Homo sapiens: one gene and its partners. The protein of the gene in region 1 interacts with the protein of each later gene in a pairwise test. Each region holds a gene or a part of one and is shown on either strand. Other genes may lie near its edges.

Region 1 (3,500 bases):
ACATTTCCTGTCTTAGCAGTTAGACCTCAGCTTCTGACAAAGTCTTGGGCCCAGTATAGAAAGCAGATCAGAGTAGGTTTGTTGTGCTGGAAAGGAGAGGGAGGACTCACAGGGCTGCCACAGCACGTGCTTCCAGGGGGTGCCATTGACACCCTAATGCCCCAACCACCAAAGCACTTCTCTGCCCAGCCCTTTACAGGGGAGGGACCAGGGCACAGGCTCCTGAGCAGGCTCTTGGTGCACCCCGGCCTCTGTGAACAGGGCTGGCTCTCCCTTCTGGATAACTACCTAGAGGCAGGTCCCAGAAACCCTGGGCACATCCAACCAGGGGCTGTGAAAGGTGCTCTGGGGCCTGGTTGGCATTGGCTTTCCTCAAATCCAGTTCCCCACTGAGTTGTCCATGCTGGCGTCCGACGTTTCCTCTCCTCACCTTCTCTCTTGACCCCACTCCTATCGAGCTCTTGCTCCTCCGCCTGCTGAGATGGCTCATAGCCCAGTCCTATCCTGGGGGCTGCTCCATCAGCCTCCTCCCACTCAGGGTTCAGGGTTCAGTCCCCTAGTACCTGGTACCTCCTTTCACTCCCAGCCCCCGCCTCCTCTCGGGCCGCCCTTTCCAGACTCCCTCGATGCCTCCTGCCCACCCACCCAGGCAACTGGTGATGGGGGAGGTCTGCTGGGGGCTGCTGTATCCCGTCCCCAAGCTCCATCCCAGAAGCACCTCCTCTCAAGGCCTGGTGCCTGGTGACCTTCTCCTGTCTCGTTTTAAACACCTTGTACACTTGGACAACTCTCAAATTCATATCGCCAGCCCAGCCCTCCCTCCTGACTTCTGCCTACTCAGTGCCTGTTTGGACATCAAATGAGTCTCAAGTTAACATGAGCCCGTGGAACCCCTGGCTCCCATCCTCCCACTAGAAGCTGCTCTGTGTGCTCCTCCCTCCCTCTAAATGTGTCTCATTCCACCACGTGGAGGTATCTCTACTTCTGCTCGTCCTCCTGTATCCCACACCGAGGCCACCAGCAGATGCAGCTCCCCTGGCAGGTACATCAGATTCTGACCACTCACACCCTCCACAGCCACCCCCACTGTGCCAGTGCCATCTGGTGACGACAGCAGCTCTGCAGGCCCCACCCGCTGACCTGCTCTCATGGCAGCAACAGGGCCGTTGTCAACATGCTTCTGGCCAGAACCCTCGAGGGGCTCCCATCTCACTCAGAGCAAAAGCTCAAGCCCTGACAATGACCTCAAGGGCCTGCTTGCCCCAGCCGGACTCTGGCCACCCTCACCTCCACCACCTTCCCCAGCCTCACCCACCACCTGGCCCCTCCACGTGTGCTTCCTGCCGCCATGCCTGCCAGTGTTTCCACTGGGCCACTCGAGGCCCACTTGCTCCCTCATTCCCCTCAGTCTCCCCTATCCAGACGCCTTCCCCAACCACCCTGCATCAAATAGCAGCCCCCAGCAGCTCTCCCCCATCACTAATAGCCTGATTCGTTCTCTCACACTACCTCCTGACATATCATCTCTCTGACTCTTCTGTTTACCACCTCACACACGTGTGCACACTCACTTGGAACACAGGCCCTGGGAAGGTGGGGCTGTGTCGACTGCCCCATCCCCAGCTCCTGGAACAGTGGCTAGGTGGGATGGACAGCAGGTGCACAGTCAGCCTTCCCGACTGGGTTGTTAAGCAGTTCTCCCACACCTTGCCCACCCTCCACAGCCGTCTCCTTGCATGAGGCTCGGCCAGCACAGAGAGGCCAGAGGGCCAGGTTGCCCATCTAAAGGAGGTTTGCCCTGGCTGGGAAAGGAAGAGCAGGACCAAACGCTTCCAGGCTGGTGTCCAGCTGCAGATGACAGCAGAGGGCGTCCTCACAGCTTGGAAGCAGAGGTCATGGGCGCCAGGGCGGGGCAGGCACAGAGGCTTGGGAGAGGCTCCTTCTGGCTGAGACCAGAGCCTGCCCAGATGCCACTGGCTGGCGAGGAGGCTGTGAGGCCGGGGGCGTGTACAGGTCTGCTCTGCAGCCTCGGCTCTCTCACCCCATCCCCACACCGTTCCTGTCCACGGAGGGCAGTCAGGCTCAGGAGAGGAGGCCAGGAGTCCTGTTTAAATTTTTTTTCTGGATTTTTAAAATGCTGATGATGTCCAGTTTAAGAGCGTGGGGTCTGGAGCCAGTCAGAACTGGGCTGGAATCCCAGCCAAGTGCATTTTCTTTTTTTCTTTTTTTTTTTTTTCTCCCCGAGACAGAGTCTTGCTCTGTCACCCAGGCTGGAGTACAGTGGCACGATCTCAACTCACTGCAACCTCCGCCTCCTGGGTTGAAGCGATTCTCCTGCCTCAGCCTCCTGAGTGCTGGGATTATAGGCACCTGCCACCAGGCCCAGCTAATTTTTGCATTTTTAGTAGAGATGGGGTTTCACCATGTTGGCCAGGATGGTCTCAAAATCCTGACCTCATGATCCGCCCACCTTGGCCTCCCAAAGTGCTGGGATTACAGGCGTGAGCCACCGCACCCGGCTGCCAAGTTCATTTTCTCGCAGTGTGACTTCAAGCTTACCTCCCTGAGCCTTGGAAGCCACCCTTCTGTTTTCTTTTCTTAGGGGCATTCTCACAAGGATTGTCACTGGGTTCTATCAGTGAACACCCTAGCTGGCGAAGTCATCTGCCCTTTCCAGCCCTGTGGACATCCATGAGCTGGTCAGCATGCCCATCTCTCATGCAGTGGTAACTGCAGGTCCAGCCAGCAAGCTGGCCCCCAGCAGGTCCTGGAGCAGATGCAGCCTGGGACCCCACATCGTTCTGTGGTTCAGACACTTGGGGCTCCTCCCTGTGGGCTGCTTGTGGTTTGCCCCGGCAGCAGGGATGGGTGGCCTGGCAGGCTCCATGGATCACTGAGTCTTCCTTCAGGCCTGGCCCAGCTCCCCACTTCCTGATTTCCCAGATCCTACCCTGGCTTTAGGTTCAAACTTAACCCACAATGAACCCCAAAGCCCTTGCAGGCAGCGTCCTCTGAGTGCTTGGCCTGAGGCCTGGGCAGGTGACTTGCAAAAGCCTGGTCTGTCCCCACAGCAGGAGGTAGCAGGGGTAAAGAGCCCTGATTCCAAAGACCGGGTCCCAGGGAGGCCCAGCCGCTGTATGGCTGTGCAGCCCTGAGCCTCCAAGAGCATCAAATTGGAAGGGGCACACAGACCCCTTGGTAAGTGAGAAGGAAGTGTGGAGAAGGCAGGGAACTGCTCAGGGGCCGCTGAAGCCCCAGACAGTAATAAAATTATGGCCTCTGGAGCCAAGGGTCCGGGTCACAGCCTCAGGCAAGGTACTTACCTTCGATGAGCCCCAGTTTTAGTACATTTAACTCAGGGAAATTACACATGAAACATGGTTACACATGCAAAGAATAGAACCTATCTGTTGGCCATTATTATCTTTTAAATGAAAAAATGACAAAACAGTATTATAATAAACATGGTAGTCTCATATAAAAGCTTGATCTTGTCTGAG
Region 2 (4,454 bases), on another chromosome or scaffold:
GATTCCCATTTGTAGTTAATTACAACTCCCTCCCTCAGCCCCAGGCATTCACTGATCTGCTTTTTTTTTTTTTTTTTTTTTTGAGACAGAGTCTGGCTTTTTCGCCCAGGCAGGAGTGGCACAATCTCAGCTCACTGCAACCTCCCCTTCCCGGGCTCAAGCAATTCTCCTGCCTCAGCCTCCCGAGTAGCTGGGACTACAGATGTGTACCACCACACCAAGCTAATTTTTGTAATTTTAGTAGAGACACGGTTTCACTGTGTTGGCCAGGCTGGTCTCAAACTCCTGACCTCAAGTGATCTGCCTGCCTCGGCCTCCCAGAGTGCTGGGATTACAGGTGTGAGCCACCGTGCCCGGCTGATCTGCTTTCTGTCTCTATAAATTTGTCTTTCCCAGACATTTCATGTAAATGGAATTAGTATGTAGTATCTTGTGTCTTATTTCTTTCACTTAGTATAATGTTTTTGGGGTTCTTCCAAGTTGTAGCATGTTTTAATATTTTGCTTATTGTTGTTGGATAATATTCCTTTGTATGGATATACCACATTTTGTTTTTCCATGTCACCATCCATTGATGAACATTTGAATTTGTTTTCTGTTTTTGGCTATTAAAATGCTGCTGTAAACAATTGTAAATAAGTCTTTGTGTGGGCTTTTTTTTTTTTTTCATTTTTCCTGGGTAGAAATCTAGGATCAAATTTGTTATCTTCTTTAAAGCATAGGGTTTCTCTGTCCTTTTTGTCCGAATGTCCTCTTTGAAATAAGGCATTGGATTTTTTTCCTCATTCTTTACCCCCCCCTTTTTTTTTTAATTTTCCCATTTTTCTTACCCAGGGAGCACAATACTTGGGAACCTGAGAAAAACTTGGATTGCCCTGAGCTAATTTCTGAATTTATGAAAAAGTATAAGAAGATGAAGGAGGGTGAAAATAATAAACCCAGGGAGAAGTCAGAAAGTAACAAGAGGAAATCCAATTTCTCAAACAGTGCCGATGACATCAAATCTAAAAAAAAGAGAGAGGTAAGCTTCCTTTCCCTTTTCCCCAAAAACTATTCTTTTGCCACCAAAATAATAATAATAAATAAAAGTATCATATTTTGGTTATTTCTATTGTAAGGATGGACCTATAAGGTAAATTGTTGAACAAAAGAGCTTCCAGGGAGGTATGTTGATTACAGCTCCCTCTCCTGGCTAAGTGAGAAATGTAATTTGTGGCCACTGGATTGTATTAAGGGGGCAAAATTAAATCTTTGTAAAATGTTAAACCACTCCTCTGCCTTCTCCATAAGTAGAAGACTTAGTTATCTTAGAGAAGGAGGATCATTGGTGAATTTTTTAAGAATAGAAAGGGGCTTTGAAATGTTTTGTTTTGTTTTGAGACAGAGTCTTGCTCTGTTGCCCAGGCTGGAGTGCAGTGGCTGGATCTCAGCTCACTGCAATCTCCAACTCCCGGCTTTAAGCGATTCTCATGCCTCAGTAGTAGCTGGGATTATAGGCACATGCCACCACACCTGGCTGATTTTTTTTTTTTTTTTTTTTTTTTTGAGACAGAGTCTTGCTGTCACCCAGGCTGGAGTGCAGTGGCACTATCTTGGCTCACTGCAAGCTCTGCCTCCCGGGTTCACGCCATTCTCCTCCCTCAGCCTCCCGAGTAGCTGGGACTACAGGCGCCTGCCACCACGCCCAGCTAATTTTTTTGTATTTTTAGTAGAGACGGGGTTTTACCATGTTAGCCAGGATGGTCTTGATAATTTTTGTATTTTTAATAGAGACGGGGTTTCGCCATGTTGGTCAGGCTGGTCTTGAACTCCTGACCTCGTGATCCGCCTGCCTTGGCCTCCCAAAGTGTTGAGATTATAGACGTGAGCCACCATGCCCAGCCGGGGCTTTGAAATGTTTACCATTTCACTTCCTTTTTTCTTTTTTTTTGGAGACAGAATATCGCTCTGTCACCCAGGCTTGAGTGCAATAGTGCGATCTTGGCTCACTGGAACTTCCACCTCCTGTGTTCAAGCAGTTCTCCTGCCTCAGCCTCCCAAGTAGCTGGGATTACAGGCACACGCCACCATGCCCAGCTAATTTTTTGTATCTTTAGTAGAGACGGGGTTTCACCATGTTGGCCGGGCTGGTCTCAAACCCCTTACCTTGTGATCCATCCACCTTGGCCTCCCAAAGTGTTGGGATTACAGGCGTGAGCCACCGCGCCCGGCCCTTTCTTTTTTTTTTTTTTTTTTTTTTTTTTTTTTTTTGAGACGGAGTCTCGCTCTGTCGCACAGGCCGGACTGCGGACTGCAGTGGCGCAATCTCGGCTCACTGCAAGCTCTGCCTCCCGGGTTCACGCCATTCTCCTGCCTCAGCCTCCCGAGTAGCTGGGACTACAGGCGCCCGCCACCGCGCCCGGCTAATTTTTTGTATTTTTAGTAGAGACGGGGTTTCACCTTGTTAGCCAGGATGGTCTCGATCTCCTGACCTCATGATCCACCCGCCTCGGCCTCCCAAAGTGCTGGGATTACAGGCGTGAGCCACCGCGCCCGGCCCCGGCCCTTTCTTTTGTTCCAGTGATAGCATTTGTTTTCAATCCTTGATAATCTTTTTTTTGCAGTGAAAATCATATAATATACAATTAAATATTTTATTTATTTATTTATTTTGAGACAGAGTCTTGTTCTGTCACTCAGGCTGGAGTGCATGGGCGTGATCTCGGCTTACTGCACCCTCACCTCCTGGGTTCAAGTGATTCTCCTGTTTCAGCCTTCTGAGTAGTTGGGATTACAGGCATGTGCCACCATAGCCAGATAATTTTTGTATTTTTATTTTTATTTTTTATTTATTTTTTTGAGACGGAGTTTCACTCTTGTTGCCCAGGCTGGAGTTCAATGGCATGATCTTGGCTCACTGCACCCTCCATCTCCTGGGTTCAAGTGATTCTTCTGCCTCAGCCTTCCAGAGTAGTTGGGATTACAGACATGCACCACCATGCCCAGCTAATTTTGTATTTTTAGTAGAGAGGGTGTTTCTCCATGTTGGTCAGGGTGGTCTTGAACTCCCTAACTCAGGTGATCCACCTGCCTTGGCCTCCCAAAGTGTTGGGATTACAGGTGTGAGCCACCATGCCTGGCTCAATTAACAATTTTAAAATGTACAGTTCAGTGGCATTTATATTCTCTTGATCTATTATTTCTACATACTTGGCGTACAAAATTAATTTTTGTCTTTTGAATCTTCTTCAGTTTGGGAAGTGTATTTATGAAATTTTGGTTTGATTTAGTTGCTTTAATCCTTCTGATCTTTAGCTCTCAAGTAAGTAGCATAAGCACTGTTATTGCCTCTCTCTCTTTTCATCTGTGTGTGGGCGCATAAATACACACACTCTACCACCTCCTCCCGCCCCCAGCTTCCATTCCTTTTATTTATTTCAAGGTTATGAAGCCTTTTGTGGTGAAGGATGTATCATACACTTTACATTTCATAAAAGCGTAAGTCTACTTCGGAATCTTCCAGCCTTCCAGAGTAGCTGCCACAATCATCCCTATGTATCTTCATTCTAATTAGATTTATACCTTTCTAGAGCATTAGTTCTCAATGCTACACATTATAATCACCTGGGGGGTACGTTAAAAAAAAAAAAAAATCTCCAGTGCCTAAGATGCACCCCAGACCAGTAAAATTAGAATTTTTTTTTTTTCTTTTTTTTTTGAGACATAGTCTCACTCTGTTGCCCAGGCTGGAGTGCAGTGGCACAATCTCACTGCAACCTCTGCCTCCTGGGTTCAAGCGATTCTCCTGCTTCACCCTCCCTAGTAGCTGGGACTACAGGCACATGCCACCATGCCTGGCTAATTTTTTGTATTTTTAGTAGAGATGGGGTTTCACCGTGTTAGCCAGAATGGTCTCAATCTCCTGACCTCGTTATCCGCCCATCTTGGCCTCTCAAAGTGCTGTGATTACAGGCATGAGCCACCACACCTGGCCTCTGTCATTTTTAAAAAGGAGCAGTCTGAATAATCTGGCTTGGAGCCACTGGCCAGTGCACAGAGTTTTGTTCCTAGGCCAGGTTCTGAAGCTGCCGACCTTGAAAACAACCCCCACATGTCCCTTACATCATAATGTTCATCTGGGACCCCTGATAGCATTCTTAGCAGTACTGGCTGCTGTCAGGTAGACAGCTGGAAAGATAGGTGATTGTATGTTTTAAAGGTATAGGAGGGGATTGTGTTTATTTCTTAAGACCACTGGAGAAGAAATTTGTTAGTTTGCATTATGCCTGATTTAAGATTACTGCCTGTATGATGATTTTAGCATTTTCTTCGCCCTGGCTCCTTTTCAGCAGCTTGAACGTTTTTCTTCCATTCGCCTCCTCTTCCCTCCCTATGTAGCAAACTGTTTTCAGTTGCCAGTTATGATTTACAACTTAGTCCATGCACCAGCATTCCAGCTGTGAGCAGCTGTGTGC
Region 3 (4,341 bases), on another chromosome or scaffold:
CTTCTTTGCCTTTGGTTTGAATTTCCTCCCGTAGCTCGGAGTAATTTGATCGTCTGAAGCCTTCTTCTCTCAGCTCGTCAAAGTCATTCTCCGTCCAGCTTTGTTCCGTTGCTGGTGAGGAACTGCGTTCCTTTGGAGGAGGAGAGGCGCTCTGCTTTTTAGAGTTTCCAGTTTTTCTGCTCTGTTTTTTCCCCATCTTTGTGGTTTTATCTACTTTTGGTCTTTGGTGACCGTGATGTACAGATGGGTTTTTGGTGTGGATGTCCTTTCTGTTTGTTAGTTTTCCTTCTGACAGACAGGACCCTCACTACTGATTTCTTCTCTTCTTTCCTCCCTTTTTCCTTTTTTTCCTTCCTAAATGATATAGAAATTTTAGGTAGTCATGTAAAAGATATCTCATTGATATATAAATGAGATATAAAAGATACCTCATTTATGTAAAACAACATATTTAAATCTCTTTATAATTCTCTTTATATATGGGAAATATATTTAAATATGTTGTTTTATATAAATGAGATATAAAAGATAAAAGATATAAAAGATACCTCATTTATATAAAACAACGTATTTAAATCTATTTCACTTTACCTCATTACTTAGAGTTAATAAACTGACCTTTTCTTAATTTTTCCATTAACTTTATCTAAACATTAGAGTTTTTTTATGAATAAAACTCAACAATAATTATTTGGCAATTTTTAATTTATCCGTTTTATTTTCTAGCCTGAGCAATATTTTACCAAAGCTGCTTTTAGTAGCTAAGTCTGAGGCTATCTTTATTGGTTCCATTCTTTAAGTAATTATTCAATAGTATCAGTTTTCTTTCTTTGAGAAATTGTTACCAACATCTATACTATGGTTAAATTTTGGAACAAATGTAGTATATCCTAGCTGTTTTATAGTTTCTATATAAGTAAATGAGGTAGATGAGGATTTTTAACATTTTGTATGTGTTCTTTGGGAGTTCTCAATAAATAAAAAAGGTCATATTGAGTATATATATTATGAATTCCTACTATTCCAAGTGTGTTCATGATCAGCAGCAGCAGTGTCACCTAGGGGTTTGTTAGAAATGCAGAATTTCAAGCCCTGCTAAATCAGAATCTGCATTTTACCAAAATTCTAAGATGATTCAAATGCGCATTAAAGTTTGAGAAGCACTGGCGTGATGATGAAAGAATTTGCTATTCTTTGTAGAAAGATTTTAACTACTGATTTTATCTTGTTAATGATTTATTTTCTATTCTTGAATTTGCTTTGGTAATATATAATTATACATTTGTTCATGTTGGTTTTCAAATATATAGGTATTAGAGATGTTTATGGTATTCTCATGTACATAAAACCATGTAGTCTGCAGTTGATTCAATGACATAGCAGCTCTTTGCTGGTAATTTTGACCACGTGATTTCCTCTTATGCTCTAGCTATAGGCTTGAAGTCCCCACATAAGACTGTATAAATTCTATAAAACATCAGTTCCATTTAAAAGAAAATTCATATGGGGCCTCATTGATAATTTAAATTACTGTGATACCACTTAAACATGTATAAACATGATGAGGTGTGAATTCCTTAAGCTTAGAGCTCTTTTACAGCTACAAAACTAATATAAACTTACACATTAAATACATTAAATACAGACAAAACTTAAATACAGTTTCAAATTTACAACATTAAAGAGACCTATGATACCGTTTAGATGAAACTAAACCAGTGGTTTGGGATTTAATTAAGGAAAGATAGAATCTGAGGTTCAAATTTCATTATTTTGCATTTTGCTTTTTATTTTGACTTATATACTTCATATATTTTTTATATCCTCATGTAAAGAATGTGTGCATTAAGTAGATGTCTAATCCAATTATTGTAGTATCATAAACAGAGAAATAATATCTTAAATGAGCTCTGAAAAATCAGAAAAGTGTGGTATGGTTGAAATATATGTTTTATTAATACTGATAATATGCTTATTTTATTATGCAATTCCTAACCAATTTAAGAACCTTTTTACAGTGCAGCCAAACTTATTACACATTAGAAGTTTTATTTTATATCACTTTGGCAATCAGAGGTGTAGATACAAACCGAGGAACTTGAATCTCATGGTAAAAATGATCTAGAATATACTTATAATGATCTTTTAAAAATTATCATCAAAATGAAAATAAAATTAAGAAACCATGGTGGAAATTTCCCAGATGCCCTAAGCATGCATTTGCCAGCCTTGAGTGATCCACTTGGAGGAACAGTGACCCAGAGTGGGGTTTCTCAGTCCTGGCACTATTGACCTTTTCACTGTTAATTCCTAGTTGGGCAGGGTTGAGGGTTGCTGTGCACTGGAGGATGTTTAGAAAGCATCCCTGGCCTCTGCCCATTAGATGGCAGTAGTGCTTTCAGTTGTGAAAATAAAAATGCCTCCAGTCATTGCCAAATGTCCCCCTGAGGGACAAATATCACTGACCTCCCCACCTTGGTTGAGAACCACTGATCTAGAGCAACTACAGCTATTATCTATTAATGTTTTTTTTTTTTTGAAAATCTGAAGTACAGATCTATAAATACGTATTCACAATCTGAAATCCAGAAAGTGCTTAAATTTAAAACATTTTTCATAATTTTGTAGCAAGCTCACTGGGTAAAACTTCGCCTAAGCTAACAAAAGATATTTAAACTCTATATGTCTCAATATCAGTGTCCATGTGTGTTGCTACAGAAACATTTATGTGTTTAATTATAAAATTCTGCCTCAGAACTCTCTGGGGGTGTTAAATAATACATTTTCAAAATCTGAATTCCAAGACACATTCCAAAACAGTAGTTTACGGTAGGGGATTATGACCCTGTATTTGAAAAGCAAGTTGACTGTCAACAATGCTATACTGATTTAATTTTTCCTGATTTTGACCTTTGGCTATTTTTATCCTTCTCATATTCCTCTCATATATTTTTCACAATAAAATAGGAGACATGATAGGAGATATGTTTTTTGCCCAAAAGAAAATAATACACTTAATGCCAGTACCTGGTAGTTTTTATTATGTGGTTGATGGCCAGTACTTTCCATTGCTATAAACATTTTGCATCCAGTTGTAAATTTTTTCTCATTGACATTGCTTTTTAACTTTAGTCACTGAAGACTGTCCTCTTAACAGCTTAAAGTACATGGACTAGTTTAATTTGTGACTCTGTTACTCATTAAACCTAAATCATTTTCTTTGTATTAGGTTGGCATCACTCTCTTCACTGTGTCTCATAGGAAATCTCTTTGGAAACATCATGAGGTTTGTATTTCTTTCATTGAATGGTACAGTGAAATTTTATTTTCTTTAAAATATGAATTCAGGTTAATATGGTTTTAGATTTTATGGTTTGTATTCCCTTAAACATATGTCTTAAGGAGAAAAGGTGGTTTTGTTTTATAAAATAGGATTTTCTTAAATATTATAGTTGTCAGTTTTGAAAGCAATGGTGTAACAGTTTTTCTCCAGTTTTATAAGTGACTCTTATCTGTTAATAGTAACTGACTAAACTTTGCATAGTCTTATCACAAATATGGTGAAGTAAACTTTTCTTATCCAGCAGTGACAGAGGAGAAAAAGTCTTAAGAAGAATTAGATGGCAAAAAATTTAGGGACATTTTTAATAGAGGTCAGGACTACAAGGGGGAAGATTGAATAACATAAGCTATGTTTATCAATGTACTGTAGTAAGTAGGATTCATTAGATAGTCACTATAATTTACAAAGATATTCAAATGAGGCTTACATTGGTGCACGTGTATTACTTATTCTGGTGCTTCAGTAGTGCCATTCTCACTATGTCAGTTCTTTTCAACTCAATGTGAAATGCTCAAAACCTGAAAGTAAACCCAGTTTAATTCTCTTTATTTTCTTTCCTCCTCCCTCCCTCCCTCCCTTCCTTTCTTCCTTCCTTTCTTTTCTTCTTTCCTTTCTGTCTTTCCCCCTTCCCTCTTTCCTTTCTTCTCTTCTTTCCTTCTTTTCCTTCCTAAATGATATAGAAATTTTAGGTAAAAGCAAGGATTTGAGAAAAATTGGAATAATGGTAAAGGTGCCTTGTTCCACAAAATACATACCTGATTAAGGACCTTTTTTTGCCAGATACTGAGCTAAGTGTCATGAGGGATGCAAATTAATTACAGTTTTTACCTTCAAGAACTTTAGGATGTAGATGATAGTCTACAAGTGATAAAATGAAGAGCATAGGATTTGAAGTCAGAGAGCCTGGGTTCAGGCACCAAAGTTTCTAGCCTCAGTTGCTTCCTTTGTATAATGAAGTTATTGAGCCTTACCTTCCTATCTCTTAGATTACCATGAAA
Region 4 (4,454 bases), on another chromosome or scaffold:
CAACCAGACCATTACCGACCAAATCTACCGGGCAATGAACTCTTCGTCCTTTGAGGGTGTCTCTGTGAGTTAAAACTTCCTTCATACTCCCCTGTCTTCCCAATCTTGAGAGAGACTCCCAAGAGGCACCTTCTACAAACATGCATTCTCTGTTTTTCTCAGTTACTTCTTTGCAGAATCAGTCTCCGACCAGAGAAGTAGGGACCTTCAAATTAGAAGAACCCATCAAAGACTAGAGGAAAAAAAATGATGTATTCCATTTTTTTAAACCCCTCCCCTCATTTCTTTTCAAACTAGACCAAGTATTCATGAGTCAGATGAGAACTATAGGATTTTGAAAGACAAAACAGTCTGAAAGGTCATCTTCTTATTCCTTTTAAAATGAAAAGATTAGTTTCCAGAGAGATTTGCTGACTTGCTTAGGCCACACAACCAGAAGCCTGCTGGTGTTCTGTCTGGGGATTTTTTCCCATTCAAATCTCATAAGTGAAGCTCCTTCTCCAAAGAATAATGTTTCTAAAATCTAGGGTATGGGCATCTGGGGTATGTCCTATATGCAGGCAAATGCCATAAATAGCATTCATTCAGAGGCTCAATTACATCAAAAACAGAAGGATTTAAAGAGTCCCTGATGTTCTCTTTCACTCTTGCTTTTGTCTCCTTTGCCTTGCTCCACATGTTCCTTCCCTCAGGGCCATGTGGTGTTTGATGCCAGCGGCTCTCGGATGGCATGGACGCTTATCGAGCAGCTTCAGGGTTAGTACAGGGGCAGGAGGGGACCGGACATGGGGGCTAGGCTGGGGCTGGGCTGGGATGCCCCCTGGGGAAGAATGCCAGAGACATCACAAGATTGCCCTGGCACCTCCCAACTTCTGCCCTTCTCTTTTAACTCTGTTCATCAAGCTTGTAAATAATAATAATAATAAGCTTAACTACAAGAAGATTGATGTCTTTGAGTTGCACTGGTTTTGCTCTTGAAAAGAGGTGTGCAGGCTGGGTGTGGTGGCTCACCCCTGTAATCCCAGCACTTTTGGGAGGCCAAGGCAGGCAGATCATGATCATGGTCAGGAGTTTGAGACCAGCCAGACCAACATGGTGAAACCTGTCTCTACCAAAAATACAAAAAAAAAAAAAAAAATTAGCTGGGTGTGGTGGCAGGTGCCTGTAGTCCCAGCTACTTGGGAGGCTGAGGCAGGAGAATCACTTGAACCCAGGAGGCAGAGGTTGCAGTGAGCTGAGATCACGCCACTGCACTCCAGCCTGGGTGATAGAGTAAGACTCTGTCTCAAAGAAAAAAGAAAAGAAAAGAGACATGCAAATTAAAAACAGCTACTCTCTTTCCCAGTGGCTTCCATTAATTTCAGGAATTTCCCCTTGAGTGGCTTGGGTTGAGAGGTTGATGACCTGTCAGTTAGACTCAAGAAAGCTGAATCTAGGAGAACCGCTATTTTTTTTTTAAGGGAATCTGCCAAATTTCCTTGCTGTGTAAAGCTTCAATGTGTATAGCTTGGCTTTTGTAGATTGTATTTTCTTGAAACTTAGCACACAGGTATTTGCAGAACTTCTAGGAGTTAATTTTTCTGCTCCACTCGGCTCTCAGTCTTTTACGGCATGGCCAAGAGAGCTATTTCTTGGCCTCCTGTGAAAAGTTTCTTTCTTCCTTTCTCCCCACCTCCACATCCTTTCAGCTCCTCTTTGTATCCAGGACAAGAGGAAATGGACTTCAGCCATGGTGAAAGGAGTGTGAGTTGGCTTTTGAAGGAAAAGTTATGGTAACGGAAACAGTTCTAGAACAGAAATCTTAGAAATGACCAAATTTTACTCAATGGCGCTTTAAGAGGCAGATATAACTTATCCAAGGAATTAAAACCCAAGCCAACAGAAGAGAATGTTCTAAAATTAAAATGAAAGCCACTGGGAAAATAGAGCCTGCCCATCATGAGAGGAAGAATAAGCAGAAATATGTGTAAAGCTTTAGAAGCCAAAATCAAAGTGAGAGACATCTCGCCGAGAGAGGTGTGAGGAATGGAATAGGTGGCAGACATGTTGTGGAGCCTCCTCACTGAAGACTTTTAAACATAGATATTCTTATTTATTTGAGTTGTCTTGGGAACCACCTTATATTGCTTTTAAGTCATGTTGCTGATTCAAGAGTCTCGTAGGTCCTTCCAAGCATCCTTAGGGCCTCAGGTGAAAATAAAATCAGATACAACCATGCAAAGCTCTAGGGAAGTGGGAAGTTGAAAATGCCTAGGATCAGCTCTTTGGCTACCTGTGGTCACTCCTTTTATTGTCGTCTGCCCAGGTGGCAGCTACAAGAAGATTGGCTACTATGACAGCACCAAGGATGATCTTTCCTGGTCCAAAACAGATAAATGGATTGGTGAGTGGATCTTGTTTGTATTTTCCTTCAGCCCCTCTCGACAGTCAAGGGAAAAAGTCATGCCTTTGAGTGAGGATGGAATGGTAGAGACTGTTAGGTTGGAATGTGGCTGGCAGCTGGGCCAGGAGAAAGGGTTAAGTGAGAGTGAATACAACCCCTAAGGCGTGGGTAGGGGAGACTGGTGTATTTGGAGAGGGAATAGGCGGTGGTTAGTACTATTTTTAATGGTGCATTGCTGGGGTAACTGGGGATTAGAGGCAGGGGGTGGGCAGAGGGCGGGAAATGGAAACTCCATTTGGGTTTCCCAGATGTCCTGGTGTCTTGATATATTTGAACCAGCTACTTCAAGCCCAGAGCTGTCTCTTTGTCTGTCTCTGTCAGGAAAACGGTTGCTTAAACTATGGAGGAGGAGGGAAAACCTCATGTAATTGTCATCTGCCAAAATGTGCTTTTTATTTTTATATGTATTTTTAAAAATTTTCCTATTTTTATGTAATTTAGAGGTAGACGTGCAGTTGTGTTACATGAATATATTGCATAGTGGTGAAGTCCGGGCGTTTAGTGTGCCTGTCACCCGAACAGTGCACCTTGTACCTAATAGGTAGTATTACATCCCTCAAAATATACTTTTTAAAGAGAGAAAGCAAGCAGTTATTCTTTGTGTACTTGGTCTAAATGATAGGACATAGGAGAGAAACTGAAGGTGGACAAAAGGAAGGACCTACTGATAAAAGAAAGCCTCCTTGAGAATGAAGGGGAGGCTCAACCATTGAAGATGGCTGCCGTCTGCCCTGCCCAGCAGATATCCAGTCATTCCCAGCACTGCTGGAGTTTTGCCCTTTTTTTTTTTTTTTTACAATTCGAATTTAGGACAATGTTCTGGATTGCTATAAATGCTGCATGGCCTAAATTATTCTTTAAAAAAAAAACTAAGCAAATTGAAATTAGTTTTTTTTGGTGAACTCTGACAAATTTGAACTTCCCCCTAATAATAACTGGAAAACATATTTGGGAATATTACCCTGCCAGGATTAAAATTTCAGATTAGCTTTCCTTCTTTTTTTGTTTGTCTTAAGAATAGGTGTCCACACTAGATACTTCAAGGCCTTTTTAGCTTTATGATTCCATAATTGTCATTTAAAACTTTGATTTGGGTTATAAGAAACCTTATAACATTTTTTAATGATCCCCTTCTTTCTCCTCCCATTTTCCTTTGCTGTAAGAAAGACAGAAAAACTTAAAGAACAAACAAAAACAAAGACTACAACTTTGGGGACATGCCTCAGCATTTCCCAACCTATGGATAGACCATTCACTCCATCTTCTCATCTCATTTCTGGTTGCTTCCTAACGGCCCCAGTGGCACTGAGCATTCTGCCTGCAGTAACCTCTGTCCAGTGCAGTTAGGGCCTCATGTCCCCAGCCAATGACTGAATGTCCATCAGCAATCTAGTTCTTTGCCCTTTTCTCCTATCCCGTCTTCATTCCTTTGTCCTCCTTCCCTTCTCTTTTCCCTTCCCCTCTTCCTCCCCTGTGCCATGCAGGAGGGTCCCCCCCAGCTGACCAGACCCTGGTCATCAAGACATTCCGCTTCCTGTCACAGAAACTCTTTATCTCCGTCTCAGTTCTCTCCAGCCTGGGCATTGTCCTAGCTGTTGTCTGTCTGTCCTTTAACATCTACAACTCACATGTCCGGTAAGTTTCTCTTCTGACGTTTTCCTTGTCTGCCTCTCTGAGATACTGATCATGTTCCTGGACAGGATGAGAATAAAACCTGTGTAACTCCCATGGCCATGTATCATGGAGTTTTTCATTCTGACTTGTTGAGAATGAAAACAGGGAAACCAGATATAACCCCCACTCCTACTCCAAAGTAGCTAACGGGAGGAAAAAAGAAAAGAAGAGAAAAAAACAACCTTTGGGGCCAGGTCTCACAGTCTTGGACTCTACATAAATAGCCTGTATTCTAGTGGGGGCCTGTGCTTGGGAAGCCCTCTGCAACTCCATCTTCAGCCCCATGACTGCATTGCTCTGCCTCTCAAGGCTCCACTGTCTTCTCCAATCCTGTCTT
Region 5 (4,454 bases), on another chromosome or scaffold:
CCAGTTTCTAGCAAGCTTACAGTCCTAGTCACACTCCTCTGGGGGGAACTCTTGTGTCTTGATGTCCTTAAAGAACTCAACCCAAGATGCTGACATGATCTGACCTATGCAGAGTACAAACACCATGTTCCCTTTCAACACACTGCAATATCACCTGAGCCTTACCATTAGCTTGTGCTCAATTGTATCCCCCCAGGCCCTTACTGATTCTTTTTTTTTTTTTTTTGAGACAGAGTCTCACTCTGTCACCCAGGCTGGAGTGCAGTGGCGTGATCTTGGCTCACTGCAACCTCCGCCTCCTGGGTTTAAGCAATTCCTGTGCCTCAGCCTCCCCAGTAGCTGGGATTACAGGCATGCACCACCACACCCGACTAATTTTTGTATTTTTAGTAGAGACGAGGTTTCACCATGTTGGCCAGGCTAGTCTCAAACTCCTGACCTCAGGTTGTCTGCCTGCCTCAGCCTCCCAAAGTGCTAGGATTACAGGCATGAGCCACCACATCTGGCCAAGCTTTACCCATTCTATATGCAATTCTTTTTTCACAATTTCTGATAGTCTCTGCAGGACTTTCCAGTTCCCTTCAAATTCTACATTAATATTTTTGGCTTGTTATTCCAGCTTTTGAAATCTTTCCAATACTGTTTGTGTTGTCTAGTGTATGTCTACGCTTCTACAGTAGCTTCCTGGGGCTGCTATAACAAACTGCTACAAACTGGGTCACGTAAAACAACAGAAATTTATTCTCTCACAGTTCAGGAGGCTGGAAGTCCAAAAGCAAGGTATCAGCAGGGCCACGCTCTCTTTGATGCTGTAGCAGGGAATCCTTCCTTGCCTCTTCCTAGCTTCCGGAGGTTGCCAGCAGTCCTTGGCATTCCTGGGCTTATAACTGCATCCGTCTAATTTCTGCCTCCATCTTCATGTAGCTGGCTTCCTTCTGTGTGTCTCTGTATCCTGTATCTCTGTGTCTCCAAATCTCCCTCTCCATATAAAGACACCAGTTTTTATAAGGTGGGTTAAGGGTCCACTCTAATTCAGTATGGCCTCTTTTTTTTGAGATGGAATATCGCTCTTGTTTCCCAGGCTTGGAGTGCAATGGCATGAGCTCAGCTCACTGCAACCTCCGCCTTCCAGGTTCAAGTGATTCTCCTGCCTCAGCCTCCTGAGTAGCTGGGATTACAGGCACGTGCCACTATGCCCAGCTAATTTGTTTTTGTATTTTTATTAGAGACGGGGTTTCACTATGTTGGCCAGGCTGGCTCGAACTCCTGACCTCAGGCAATCCACCCACCTCGGCCTCCCAAAGTGCTGGGATTACAGGAATGAGATACCATGGCTGGCCTCTTCTTAGTTTGATTACATTTGCAGGGATCCTGTTTCCAAATAAGATCACATTCACAGGTTCAGGGTAGACATGAGTTTTGGTGGGATACTATTCAACCCAGTACACCGTCTCACCTTATGATTGCTGTCTGTATCCCACTTTCTTACTGTCTCTCCTCTTTTGGTGTCTCTCTGTCCCTTCCCCCTTTAACATCATGCCCACCCCACCATGCCAGGACAACAGCCGCCGGGTAGACAATGTGCTAAAGCTGTGGATCATAGAGGCCCGGGAGCTGCCCCCCAAGAAGCGGTACTACTGTGAGCTCTGCCTGGATGACATGCTGTATGCACGCACCACCTCCAAGCCCCGCTCTGCCTCTGGGGACACCGTCTTCTGGGGCGAGCACTTCGAGTTTAACAACCTGCCGGCTGTCCGTGCCCTGCGGCTGCATCTGTACCGTGACTCAGACAAAAAGCGCAAGAAGGACAAGGCAGGCTATGTCGGCCTGGTGACTGTGCCAGTGGCCACCCTGGCTGGGCGCCACTTCACAGAGCAGTGGTACCCTGTAACCCTGCCAACAGGCAGTGGGGGATCTGGGGGCATGGGTTCGGGAGGGGGAGGGGGCTCGGGGGGTGGCTCAGGGGGCAAGGGCAAAGGAGGTTGCCCGGCTGTGCGGCTGAAAGCACGTTACCAGACAATGAGCATCTTGCCCATGGAGCTATATAAAGAGTTTGCAGAGTATGTCACCAACCATTATCGGATGCTGTGTGCAGTCTTGGAGCCCGCCCTGAATGTCAAAGGCAAGGAGGAGGTTGCCAGTGCACTAGTTCACATCCTGCAGAGTACAGGCAAGGCCAAGGTGAGTGTTGTGCCCTCAGGGAAAGGTGACTTGGGAATGGGCACTTGCTTGGGGGTTAGTGAGGACAGGGCAAATTCACGAGATTGGGTTGTGCAGAGGCTGACACTTGGATTTTCCTGGGCCTCAGGACTTCCTTTCAGACATGGCCATGTCTGAGGTAGACCGGTTCATGGAACGGGAGCACCTCATATTCCGCGAGAACACGCTTGCCACTAAAGCCATAGAAGAGTATATGAGACTGATTGGTCAGAAATACCTCAAGGATGCCATTGGTATGGCCCACACTCAGGCCCTCTTCTTCCCAAACCTGCCAGATGTCCACCCCAGACCCCAAGTCCACCCTTCCACAGCTTGATACTTCCTAACCCAGAGTCCTAGGACTCCAGCCTCCAACACCTGATTCTGAAATTTCCCCAACCCTGGCCACCCCCTTCCCTGCCCTTGGAAAGTGTGACCACACCCTCTTGTGCCCCCACCCCCCAGGAGAATTCATCCGTGCTCTGTATGAATCTGAGGAAAACTGCGAGGTAGACCCTATCAAGTGCACAGCATCCAGTTTGGCAGAGCACCAGGCCAACCTGCGAATGTGCTGTGAGTTGGCCCTGTGCAAGGTGGTCAACTCCCACTGGTGAGACTGGGAACGCTGGGCTGGGGGGCCAGGGTCGGGGGAATTATGTGTTCATCTGTTCATCTATCTGTCCATCCTCAAAGAGGACTGAGCACCATTTATGGGCAAAGCATTGTTCTAGGCGCTATAGAGCAAACAGGTGAAAGAGGCCTGGTCCCTGCCCTCAGAGGGCCTCCACCAGAATGGGGACAAATTAGAAGAAAAAAAAAAAAAGCCACAGAGCCATAATGGTGTGTAAGTGCTGAGTAAGGGTCCCCCCAACCTCTGTGTGACATAAGGTCAGAGAGAAGGCAGAGCTTTGAGATAAGTGGGGAAGAGGTGCCCCCTTGGGTAGGCTTTGAAGACTGGTTTAGGTTCTGATATATGGACATAGTTGGCAAGAAAGACATTTCAGAAGAAGGCTGTGAGAAAGGCACATGTGTGATGGTGAAAAGGCCCAGGAGTTTTCAGGGGACATTAAAGTAGGTTAGTAGCAATTACATCAGGTTTAGTGGAGCATGTGCCTCATAATGGGGAGTGGCGGGAGAGATGTCTGGGCAGGAAGATTAGCTTTAGAAACTGGAAGGCCTCAAGGAGTCTGAGGTCATTGGTAGGCCTTGGGATGCCATTAAAGGTGTCAGAAATATTGTGATTTAGAAGATTAATCCATAGGCTGGGCACGGTGGCTCACACCTGTAATACCAGCACTTTGGGAGGCTGAGGCGGGCAGACCACCTGAGGTCAGGAGTTTGAGACCAGGCTGACCAACATGGAGAAACCCTGTCTCTACTAAAAATACAAAATTAGCCAGATGTGGTGGCACATGCCTGTAATCCCAGCTATTCGGGAGGCTAAGGCAGGAGAATCACTTGAATCTGGGAGGTGGAGGTTGTAGTGAGCCGAGATCACACGATTGCACTCTAGCCTGGGCAACAAGAGTGAAACTCCATCTCAAAAAAAAAAAATTAATCCATAAGTAGAGTGTATGTAGTAGAGTAGAGGGATGTATGTTGGGGGATGACTGGAATAGAGCCAGCTGGGGGCTCGGAGGCATGAAAGTCAGATCCTGAATCAGAACAGTGACAGAAGTTAGGAAGGAGCTACTGGAAGGACCCTCTCGGGAAAGGATCAGTAGGAATTGTCAGCTTATTGGAAAGGAGGGAGCATGTCTGTGGGGAGTCACGGATGACTCAAGAGGCCATGAGGCTGGTGGTTGGGAGACCGGTGGCCTCATTGACAACCAGGAAAGTCAGGAGGAGGAGCCAGTTGGAGGTGTGGGGGCGATGGTGAGCTCTGCTTTACACCAGCCGAGTTTAAGGTGTCAGTGGGACATTGAAGTGGAACTGGGAGGTGCGGGGAGTGAGCTCTGAGCCATTCCAGGGACTGGGGATCATGCCTGGGGCACCTCCATCCCCATTTCCCTGGAATCCAGAAGAGTTGGGGGGTCCGAGCTCCCTGTACCTCAAGTGACCCTCCATCTCTCTCCCATCTCTGTCTCTCCCTGGTGTCTGTTTTTCTTCTCCTCCTCTCCTTGTCTCTCTCCCACACCCCTCCATCTCTCTCCCACGTGTCTCTCCCCTCACCTTCTCTCCCCCTCCATTTCTCTCTCCCTAATCTGTCTGTTCCCTCTGCCATGGCCCCCTTCTTCAAGCAGCCTCCCATCTTG
Region 6 (3,618 bases), on another chromosome or scaffold:
TGTGTGAAAGTCAAAATGCAGGCTTTGTGGTCAGTTTGTTTTGTAATATTTTCACAGTAACATCCAGGAGATGAGGGCTCGGCACAAAGAGGCTTTTTTGAAGAAACATAACCTCAAACTAGGCTTCATGTCGGCATTTGTGAAGGCCTCAGCCTTTGCCTTGCAGGAACAGCCTGTTGTAAATGCAGGTGAGTTGCTTGTGGCTGGAATTGGAGAGGTCCTGGGAGGTAGGTGTATGAGCACAGACCTGCTCCCACATGCAGAGGATCAACAGACCAAGGCTTTTTATTTGCTACCTATAGAAATATCAGTATCTTCCCCAGGGATTTCTTGGTTCACCTTCCTGAAGCAGCATCATGATTACTTTCTACCCGCCAGCTGGGCAGAACAGTTTCTCTTCCCAGTGTACAGCTCGGCAGCTGCTCAGGCAGCAGGCAGTTCTGGGATAGCCCAGCTCTCCAGGCTGTCTCCTGTCAAGGTGGAAGCACGTGTTCTGGCTTCCTCCCCTCCCCCAGCTCCACAGGCCCTGTTACCTTGGGGCCTGACTTCCACAGTTGGTGTAGGCTCCTGGCTGACCTTTGATCTTAGGTCGATGGGCCTCACTGGGAGCTTCGGCTTGGCCTCTCATGGACCTGGTGCTTATTTTCTTTCCTTTTTACTTACCTACGTCATTGTAGTGTTGACCTAACAAGCACTTTGTTTTCCTGTTGACACACTTCTCTGTTCCTTGGGAGATTGGAGAGGGGTCAGTGCTACTTTTGCCATCCTCAGCAGTGTCAGGGGCCCTAAAGGTCTAGAAGTAGAAGCCCTAGTCCCTCCTGTTGAGTGGTGCTCTAGGGAGGTAGAAGGCCATCTTTGTTTTGCCCAAATGTATACCTCTTCTTTTTCCCATTCTTCTCATGCCTCCCTGACTGGCTCTCATCTTTTTCAGTGGCCCCCTTCTGCTTGCCCACACATGTAGGCGGCTCTCAAAAGTTCTCGTGGCCTCTTTTTCACATTACATGCTTCCTCTGGATGTCTTATCTAACAATACAACATGGACTTTCTGCGGAAATGATTCCCAAGCCTTTATTTTCCCATTAGTTGCTAGGTGTACATTTTCAGATGCTGGTTTGCCATCTCTTGAGGTAGCATATTTCAAAGCCAGATCACCCCGCTTACTCTTGGATCTCCCCTCTTCCTCTTGTTGAGAGTTGGAAGCAGAGAATGGGTAGTATCTCTATATCCCTTTTCCTTTGCTAATTTGCCCTTTTTTGGAACATTTGTTAACCCTAGTCATTCTCTGCTAAAGGAGGGCTTGACTAGAGCTACTTAACGAGAGTTTAGTGCATACCTATCCTATGGAAGCCAGTGTGTTGAGCCCTTCTTAGGGCTGCCAAAGAAATGGATGCTCCTATGCCCAGGCTCAGTCAGGGACTTGGGAGATACTATACTTGGGATGGGAGTAAGTGGAATGCCAGCTGCCATGCATAATGCAGTGGTGTTCATGGTGGTTGGTCAGCCCACACTGTATCAAGCTCTGCAGATTTTTACTCTGTTAATGCACATATTACCTCATTAGTCTTGGCCTTCCTGGGGAGTTGTATGTAACATGTATTTTCTCTCTCATAGTGATTGACGACACAACCAAAGAGGTGGTGTATAGGGATTATATTGACATCAGTGTTGCAGTGGCCACCCCACGGGTATGTTGGGGCAGGAGGTGGGGAATGTTGGTCTTAGACCCTCACCTTATCTGTGTGAAGGAGATCACACAAGAGAAATCATTTCTTTAATTCTGTATTTTTAGAAGGGAGTTAGTAAAAGTAACCTTTTTTTTCTTTTAAACCATGCCGCATTCTTTTAACACTTTCTGTTAATCACACTGAGTAATGAAGGTATTCTAGGGAGGGCATACCATGGGTTGAATCAAGGGAGTTGTTAACTATAAAAGGTACTATTAATTTGCAACTGAAAACAGCTTTTCACCCCCTTCAGGGTCTGGTGGTTCCAGTCATCAGGAATGTGGAAGCTATGAATTTTGCAGATATTGAACGGACCATCACTGAACTGGGAGAGAAGGTAAAGTAGAAAGATGTATACAAGCTGCTAAGCAGGCGAGGGAAGAGAGCCTTCAGAAGGCTGGGCTCACTAGCAAGCAGTGCTCATGGAAAGTCAAGTGCATAGCCCCTGAGAAAAGCAGTTGCCCATGAGAGCTAAGTATTTTATATATCTGGTGGAGTTTACCATGCTCTGGTAACTGAAATCTCATCAGATGAGACCTGCTAGAAAAGATCATCTTTGAAGTCTTCAACTGTATGAAATTGTGCCTTTTCTCTGGTGGAGCACTGGTCATAGACACCTTAGCCGAACAACTGTCACACGGAAGCTAGCGCTTGTGCCATCGATCTCGATACAAGCTTTCTGGACTTCCTTTGCTTTTTTGTTTTTAGAGGCAGGGTCTCGCTGTGTTGCCCAGGCTGGAGTAGAGTGGTAGAGTCATAGCTTACTGCAGCCTTGCACTCCTGGGCTCAAGCGATTCTCCTGCCTCAGCCTCCCAAGTAGCTGGGACTACAGGTGTGCACCACCATGCCTGGCTAATTCTTAAGTTTTTTATACAGATGGGGGTCTCACTATGTTGCCCAGGTTGGCCTTGAACTCCTGGCCTCAAGCAGTCCTCCTGCCTCGGCCTCCCAAAGCGCTGGGATTATGGACTGACTTTAGGTGAAGGAAACTGGGTTGGCTTGATATTTCAATTATGAAATCTGTTTTTAGGCCCGAAAGAATGAACTTGCCATTGAAGATATGGATGGCGGTACCTTCACCATTAGCAATGGAGGCGTTTTTGGCTCGCTCTTTGGAACACCCATTATCAACCCCCCTCAGTCTGCCATCCTGGGGATGCATGGCATCTTTGACAGGCCAGTGGCTATAGGAGGCAAGGTAGGAACCGTCACTTCTAAGGTCCTAGTGGCTAGGTCTCGATGAAAGGGAAATCCAACTAAATGCTAATTGTAAAACATTAACTATAATTTCAGGCCTAAGTTCCATTTCTTAGTTTCTAATAGCTAAGGCACTGATTATCAAATTGTGGTCTGGATCAGCATCATCTGGGACCTTATTAGAAATGCATATTCTTAGACCCCATCCCAGACTTAAAGAAGAAGTGCAGATGATCCTGATGCATATTCAAGTTTGAGAACCACTGAGCTGAGGAGGCTTGTTTGCTTCTATGGAGTGGGGGATATAGTTGGAAACGTGGTCCCTTGCCCCTGGGAAACAGATGACAATTATGCATGTCAGTCTGTGAGCTGCCAAGTTGTATGATAAAGCTTGTAAATTTCCCGGGAGTTCAGAGAATTAAGTATTAAAAGGGGCTTGAGCTGGCCCTTAGAAGATACGTTGGTATCAAAAAAGCTTTCTGGGAACTCCTGTGTTTAGAATCCTTTTGGGTTACTGACTCCTGTGTGAAACCACAGTCTGTAGATCTTCCTGGAAAATGCCCATACACCCAGCTACACATACAATTCCAGAATTTGTAGACCCTGGCTTAATTTTTTTTTTTTTTTTTAAATTCTAACCCCAGAGAGAAGCAAGTACAGGCAGCCAGAACTGAAGGGAAAACTTTCCTTGTAGGCA
Region 7 (4,454 bases), on another chromosome or scaffold:
TGAGGTGATTTTTTTAATACCTCTCCGCTGAGCAAGAGTAGAGCGGCCTACTGGTTCCAAAACTGGTGACTGATTACGGTTCAAAGCAGAATATGTAGCTGCCATGGCACCCTGAACAAAGGAAATAAAGGTAGTAACAAAAGTGACAATGGATAGTCACACGTACACAAATACAAAATGAAGAGTTTTTTCATATGCAAATGTACATAGATTTTATTTGGTTCATAATGAAAATAACCACACTGGTCAAATCCACTGACTTAACCAAAACTGTAGAGGCCAACATGGAGGTTAAAATTATGTATGAGAGAGAACAAAGATAGGCTCATAACAGGCAGTCCTCACTTTTCTCAGGACTATTCAACATTTTTTCCCTTTGCATTCCTTTAATGCATAAAGGCACTAAAGAGACAGGAAGGCATGCTCTTTAAGTTGGGAAATCCATAAGCTTAATCTGTCCTTATTGATAGTGAATACCTACTCATGTAGACTGAGAGGAATTCAAAAGTCGCTCTTAAACTAGTTTTATTACTAATATATTGATATGCCTTGAGCTTTTCGAAGTCACCCACTGTAAGAGAATCCCACAACAGAACTGGATGCAGGATGAAAGAGAAAGGTGCTGGGGGCATGGACAGGGCTTCTTGAAGTCTCTCCTGGAGGACCTGTGGAAAACAGTGACTGTATGGGGCTGCTCACCTTTACTAGATGTGGTGCATCCTGTCTGTTTAGTTGGTATTGTGGCAGTTGGTCCCAGTGGACGATCCAAGGATGTCTGAGCACAAGAGCAGCAGTCAGTCTCTGATGAGGGTCTACATGAAGCATCTTTGACACCAGGTCCTGTAATGGGAATAATAAAACAAGCTTAAACCTTTTGTTTTGCTTCTTTTTCTATGGCTCTTGATACTAATGAACATTCTTCCTTAGCTTCTGTGATACTGCTTTTTCTGGTAGCAGCCCTTTGGTCAACATGGTAATTTGGGGGAAAAAAAATCAGTCTCCGCTTTTTCCCTGCTAAATAACTGTAATTTGGTGCATCACAAGGGGTCAATTTAGCACATTTTATATATCTTTAAGTACTCTGGCTCTTTTTTCCTTCAGATTTTCTGAGTTTCCTACATTTTTGTAGGTTTATTTATTTATTGAAACAGGGTCTCATTCTGTCGCCCAGGCTGGAGTGCAGTGGCATGATCTTGGCTCACTGCAACCTCTGTCTCCTGGCCTCAAGTGATCCTCCCACCTCAGCCTCCCAAAGAGCTGGGACTACAGGTGTGCGCCACCATGCCTGGCTAACTTTTATGTTTTTAGTAGAGATGGGGTTTCATCATGTTGCCCAGGCTGGTCTCCACCTCCTGGATGCAAGTGTTACTCCCGCTTCAGCCTCTCAAGGTGCTAGGATTACAGATGTGAACCACTGTGCTTGGCCAGTTTATTTTTAAGTAATATTCAGTTACTTAAGACTTTTTTTGTGCTGCTGGTAATACTGAAAAAAAAAAACATGAATGTCCAATAACAGGAATTTAATTGGAGGGCTCTAAATGCCCCCTGAAAAGACTATAGTATTTTTTTTCCTACTTCAAAAGCAACCCATGGGCATTAGAGAATAATCAGAAAATACTGGAATGTGAAAGCACATGAGGAACAGTTCCATAATCCCACTCTTCCAGAGACAGTCACTGTTAGCACTGCATATCTATCTAAATGCCATTCCTATGCATGCAATGTAGATGCATATAATCACTACATGGTTTTACACTCTTCAAAATAACACCACTGTCATTTATAAAAGCCACCATTTTTTAAATTTTTCATTCAAAATACATTTGTTAAGTATCCAGTAAAGGCCAGGCATTCTGCTAGGCACTGGGTAGTTAGCAATGAACAACACAGAAATGAAGTCTAGGCAACATTGTGAGGTCCTGTATCTACAATTTTTTTTTTTTTTAAAGCTGAGTGTGGTGGCATATGCCTGAGGTCCCAGCTATTTGGGAGGCTGAGGCAGAGATCATTTGAGCCCAGGAAGTCAAGGCTGCAGTGAGCCGTGATTGAACCACTGTACTCTAGTCTGGGCAACAGAGCGAGACCCTGTCTCAAAAAAAAAAAAAAAAAAGACAAAATGAACTCTGACTTCATGAAGTTTTCAGTTCAGTGAAGGAGAGATAAAGAATCAATAATCACAAAGCAAGTAAGTTCTTTGACAGGATGAACAAACACCAGGTGCAGCTGGAGGGACACAGAGATACCTGACTGTACTGTGTGAGGTGGCTTAAAAGGGACTTTTTAAGAGGAAGATAAGACCTGTAGGATAAGCAGGAGCTAGATTAGAGAAAGGAAGGGGGAAACACTGCCTCAGGTAGAGTAGAGAGAATGGAGAGTGAGTTTGGAGGAACGCTCTTAGGTGGGAGAGAAGACGACACAGTTAAGGAACTGGCAGCAGTACAATGCGGCTACAGCATAAATTTACCGTGAAGGAGAATGTGGCAGTGGATAAAGTGGGAGAGATGAGAAGGGACCAGATCAGGAAAGTCCCTGTAAGCCATATTTGCAAACGTGGACTTATTTGATGGTAATAAAGTGTTTAAAGTTAGGGAGTGATGCGGTTAAGTAAAAAGATCACATTCACTGAGTGTGGAGGAAAATGGACTGGTGAAAGATGACAGCTTCAGGGAGGTGTATGTAATGGAGAAAATTGGGCTGGGCGTGGGAGAAATTTGGGAGGCCAAAGTGGGAGGCTCACTTGACCCCAGGAGTTCGAGACCAGCCTGGGCAACGTAGTGGGACTCCATCTCTACAAAAAATTTAAAAATTAGCTGGGAGTGGTGGTGCATGCCTGTAGTCCCGGCTGTTCAGGAGGCTGAGGTGGGAGGATAGCTAGAGTCCAGAAGTTGGAGGTTGCAGTGAGCTGTGATTGTACCACTGCAACTCTAGCCTGGGCAACACACTAAGACTCTATCTCAAAAAAAAAAAAAAAAAAAAAAAGAGAGAGAGAGAGAGAGAAATGGAGGTATTTAGGATAAAGAACTGACAGAATCTGGTGGTTAACTAGATCTTGGGAATTAGCGTGATGTTGTTCCAGGTACTCCTCTGCTATGAGACATTTATGGTTTCTTACTTTTAGTTATTAACAGCTAAGAACAGGGATACGCAATTGAACAGAGCTGGAAATAAAAATAAAAAAAATTAGGAACCTCCCTTTTGCAATTCTGAAAGTAGGCAAAAGTGCTTAAAATTGCATAAAAGGTTGCAAAACTGTCCAGGGGTACAACAAAACTCAATTATAATTTTAATCAAATCTATACGTTAATGAGCTTTTGGTGAACTCACTTCAAACTACTTCTCTTACTACAGCCCCTTTAATGGCTACTCCTCCCCTAAGCTTTCTCTTTAAGTGGTGCTCTCCAGAATTCTTTCCTTGGCTCTCTTACACTCTGCTCAGATAATCTCATTCAAATTCATGGCTTTAGCTACTATGGATGATGACAACTCTTAAGTGTCACCCCAGACTTCTCTTTTAAGACCTATAACCATATAGACAGTTGCCTGATGGACATACATCTCTTAATTTATAATGTCCAAATCTGCAACCACCACTCCTCTCAAAACTACTTCTTTTGTATTCTACAAATCAGTGAAGGATACCACCCCTCATCCATCTGCCCAAGGTAGAAATGGGGACTACATACATTATAACTGCTTTTCTCTCATTTCTTATGTATAATAAACCATCAAGTCTATTATGCCTCCTCAATTTCTCTTCCATTTGGCTCAAATTCCATCACAACTGCTCTAATATAGGTCCTCATCATTCATGACCTGAAATATTGCAAAACCTTACAAGTACTGTCCCTAATATTAGGTCAGTGAGGACTAAATGAAACAACATAGGTAAAAGTGTTAGCACAGTCCTTGGTACATAAATGCTCAGTAAATGCCAGCTCTAGTCTTCTTGCTCTGAAAGCCACATATGGCCCACATGACTGACAACATTCACATATGCAACTTGCTCTTGAGGGGATACACCCAGATTGATAGAGCCCTCCCTTCTATCTTGTGGCTAATCATGGAATTATATCATGCTTGTAATCACAAGTCTTAACTGTACATATTAGCAACAGTTACTAGTGATAACATGGAATCTATAAGATAGGCTGTGAGTTGGATGTAATTTTTTATGCTCTGTGTCTCCATTCTTACCTGCCCTTCCTCTCTCACCAAAAAAGCATACCAGGATGTAAGTGAATGAAGAAAATCACAGTGATAACCTCAACTTGCTTTAACTTATTAAAAAATCAATTAATGTGTAAGCCCTGATATTTTATTATTGGTAACATATACTTAATATACCTCACAACCTATCATGACAAAGTTTGTGGTGGACTCCATAGCTAAGAATTACTGCTCCACAGAATGCACTTTAAAAAGGAAAATCTGATCACTGCACTCCTTAATATGTG

The links.
Region 2: the proteins of GNAO1 (region 1) and CBX5 interact in binary tests that used the Homo sapiens proteins (3 or more experiments, as listed by UniProt).
Region 3: the proteins of GNAO1 (region 1) and ABCD3 interact in binary tests that used the Homo sapiens proteins (3 or more experiments, as listed by UniProt).
Region 4: the proteins of GNAO1 (region 1) and GABBR1 come close enough for resonance energy transfer, tested with the Homo sapiens proteins (one study listed by BioGRID).
Region 5: the proteins of GNAO1 (region 1) and SYNGAP1 interact in binary tests that used the Homo sapiens proteins (3 or more experiments, as listed by UniProt).
Region 6: the proteins of GNAO1 (region 1) and DLST interact in binary tests that used the Homo sapiens proteins (3 or more experiments, as listed by UniProt).
Region 7: the proteins of GNAO1 (region 1) and RPS6KA3 interact in binary tests that used the Homo sapiens proteins (3 or more experiments, as listed by UniProt).

What each region holds. Positions count from the first base shown.
Region 1 is NC_000016.10:56,330,989-56,334,488, forward strand, and holds part of GNAO1 (guanine nucleotide-binding protein G(o) subunit alpha), read left to right. Parts: intron 1-3,500. UniProt on the Homo sapiens protein: Guanine nucleotide-binding proteins (G proteins) function as transducers downstream of G protein-coupled receptors (GPCRs) in numerous signaling cascades.
Region 2 is NC_000012.12:54,248,608-54,253,061, reverse strand, and holds part of CBX5 (chromobox protein homolog 5), read left to right. Parts: intron 1-834; coding exon 835-1,021; intron 1,022-4,454. UniProt on the Homo sapiens protein: Component of heterochromatin that recognizes and binds histone H3 tails methylated at 'Lys-9' (H3K9me), leading to epigenetic repression. In contrast, it is excluded from chromatin when 'Tyr-41' of histone H3 is phosphorylated (H3Y41ph).
Region 3 is NC_000001.11:94,511,917-94,516,257, forward strand, and holds part of ABCD3 (ATP-binding cassette sub-family D member 3), read left to right. Parts: intron 1-3,229; coding exon 3,230-3,286; intron 3,287-4,341. UniProt on the Homo sapiens protein: Broad substrate specificity ATP-dependent transporter of the ATP-binding cassette (ABC) family that catalyzes the transport of long-chain fatty acids (LCFA)-CoA, dicarboxylic acids-CoA, long-branched-chain fatty acids-CoA and bile acids from the cytosol to the peroxisome lumen for beta-oxydation.
Region 4 is NC_000006.12:29,608,853-29,613,306, reverse strand, and holds part of GABBR1 (gamma-aminobutyric acid type B receptor subunit 1 isoform a precursor), read left to right. Parts: coding exon 1-64; intron 65-692; coding exon 693-756; intron 757-2,305; coding exon 2,306-2,383; intron 2,384-3,927; coding exon 3,928-4,078; intron 4,079-4,454.
Region 5 is NC_000006.12:33,436,111-33,440,564, forward strand, and holds part of SYNGAP1 (ras/Rap GTPase-activating protein SynGAP), read left to right. Parts: intron 1-1,252; exon of another isoform or gene 1,253-1,371; intron 1,372-1,557; coding exon 1,558-2,181; intron 2,182-2,220; exon of another isoform or gene 2,221-2,308; coding exon 2,309-2,453; intron 2,454-2,664; coding exon 2,665-2,809; intron 2,810-4,454. UniProt on the Homo sapiens protein: Major constituent of the PSD essential for postsynaptic signaling. Inhibitory regulator of the Ras-cAMP pathway.
Region 6 is NC_000014.9:74,898,312-74,901,929, forward strand, and holds part of DLST (dihydrolipoyllysine-residue succinyltransferase component of 2-oxoglutarate dehydrogenase complex, mitochondrial isoform 1 precursor), read left to right. Parts: intron 1-57; coding exon 58-188; intron 189-1,611; coding exon 1,612-1,685; intron 1,686-1,977; coding exon 1,978-2,061; intron 2,062-2,754; coding exon 2,755-2,922; intron 2,923-3,618. UniProt on the Homo sapiens protein: Dihydrolipoamide succinyltransferase (E2) component of the 2-oxoglutarate dehydrogenase complex. The 2-oxoglutarate dehydrogenase complex catalyzes the overall conversion of 2-oxoglutarate to succinyl-CoA and CO(2).
Region 7 is NC_000023.11:20,155,410-20,159,863, forward strand, and holds part of RPS6KA3 (ribosomal protein S6 kinase alpha-3), read right to left. Parts: intron 841-4,454; coding exon 700-840; intron 112-699; coding exon 1-111. UniProt on the Homo sapiens protein: Serine/threonine-protein kinase that acts downstream of ERK (MAPK1/ERK2 and MAPK3/ERK1) signaling and mediates mitogenic and stress-induced activation of the transcription factors CREB1, ETV1/ER81 and NR4A1/NUR77, regulates translation through RPS6 and EIF4B phosphorylation, and mediates cellular proliferation, survival, and differentiation by modulating mTOR signaling and repressing pro-apoptotic function of BAD and DAPK1.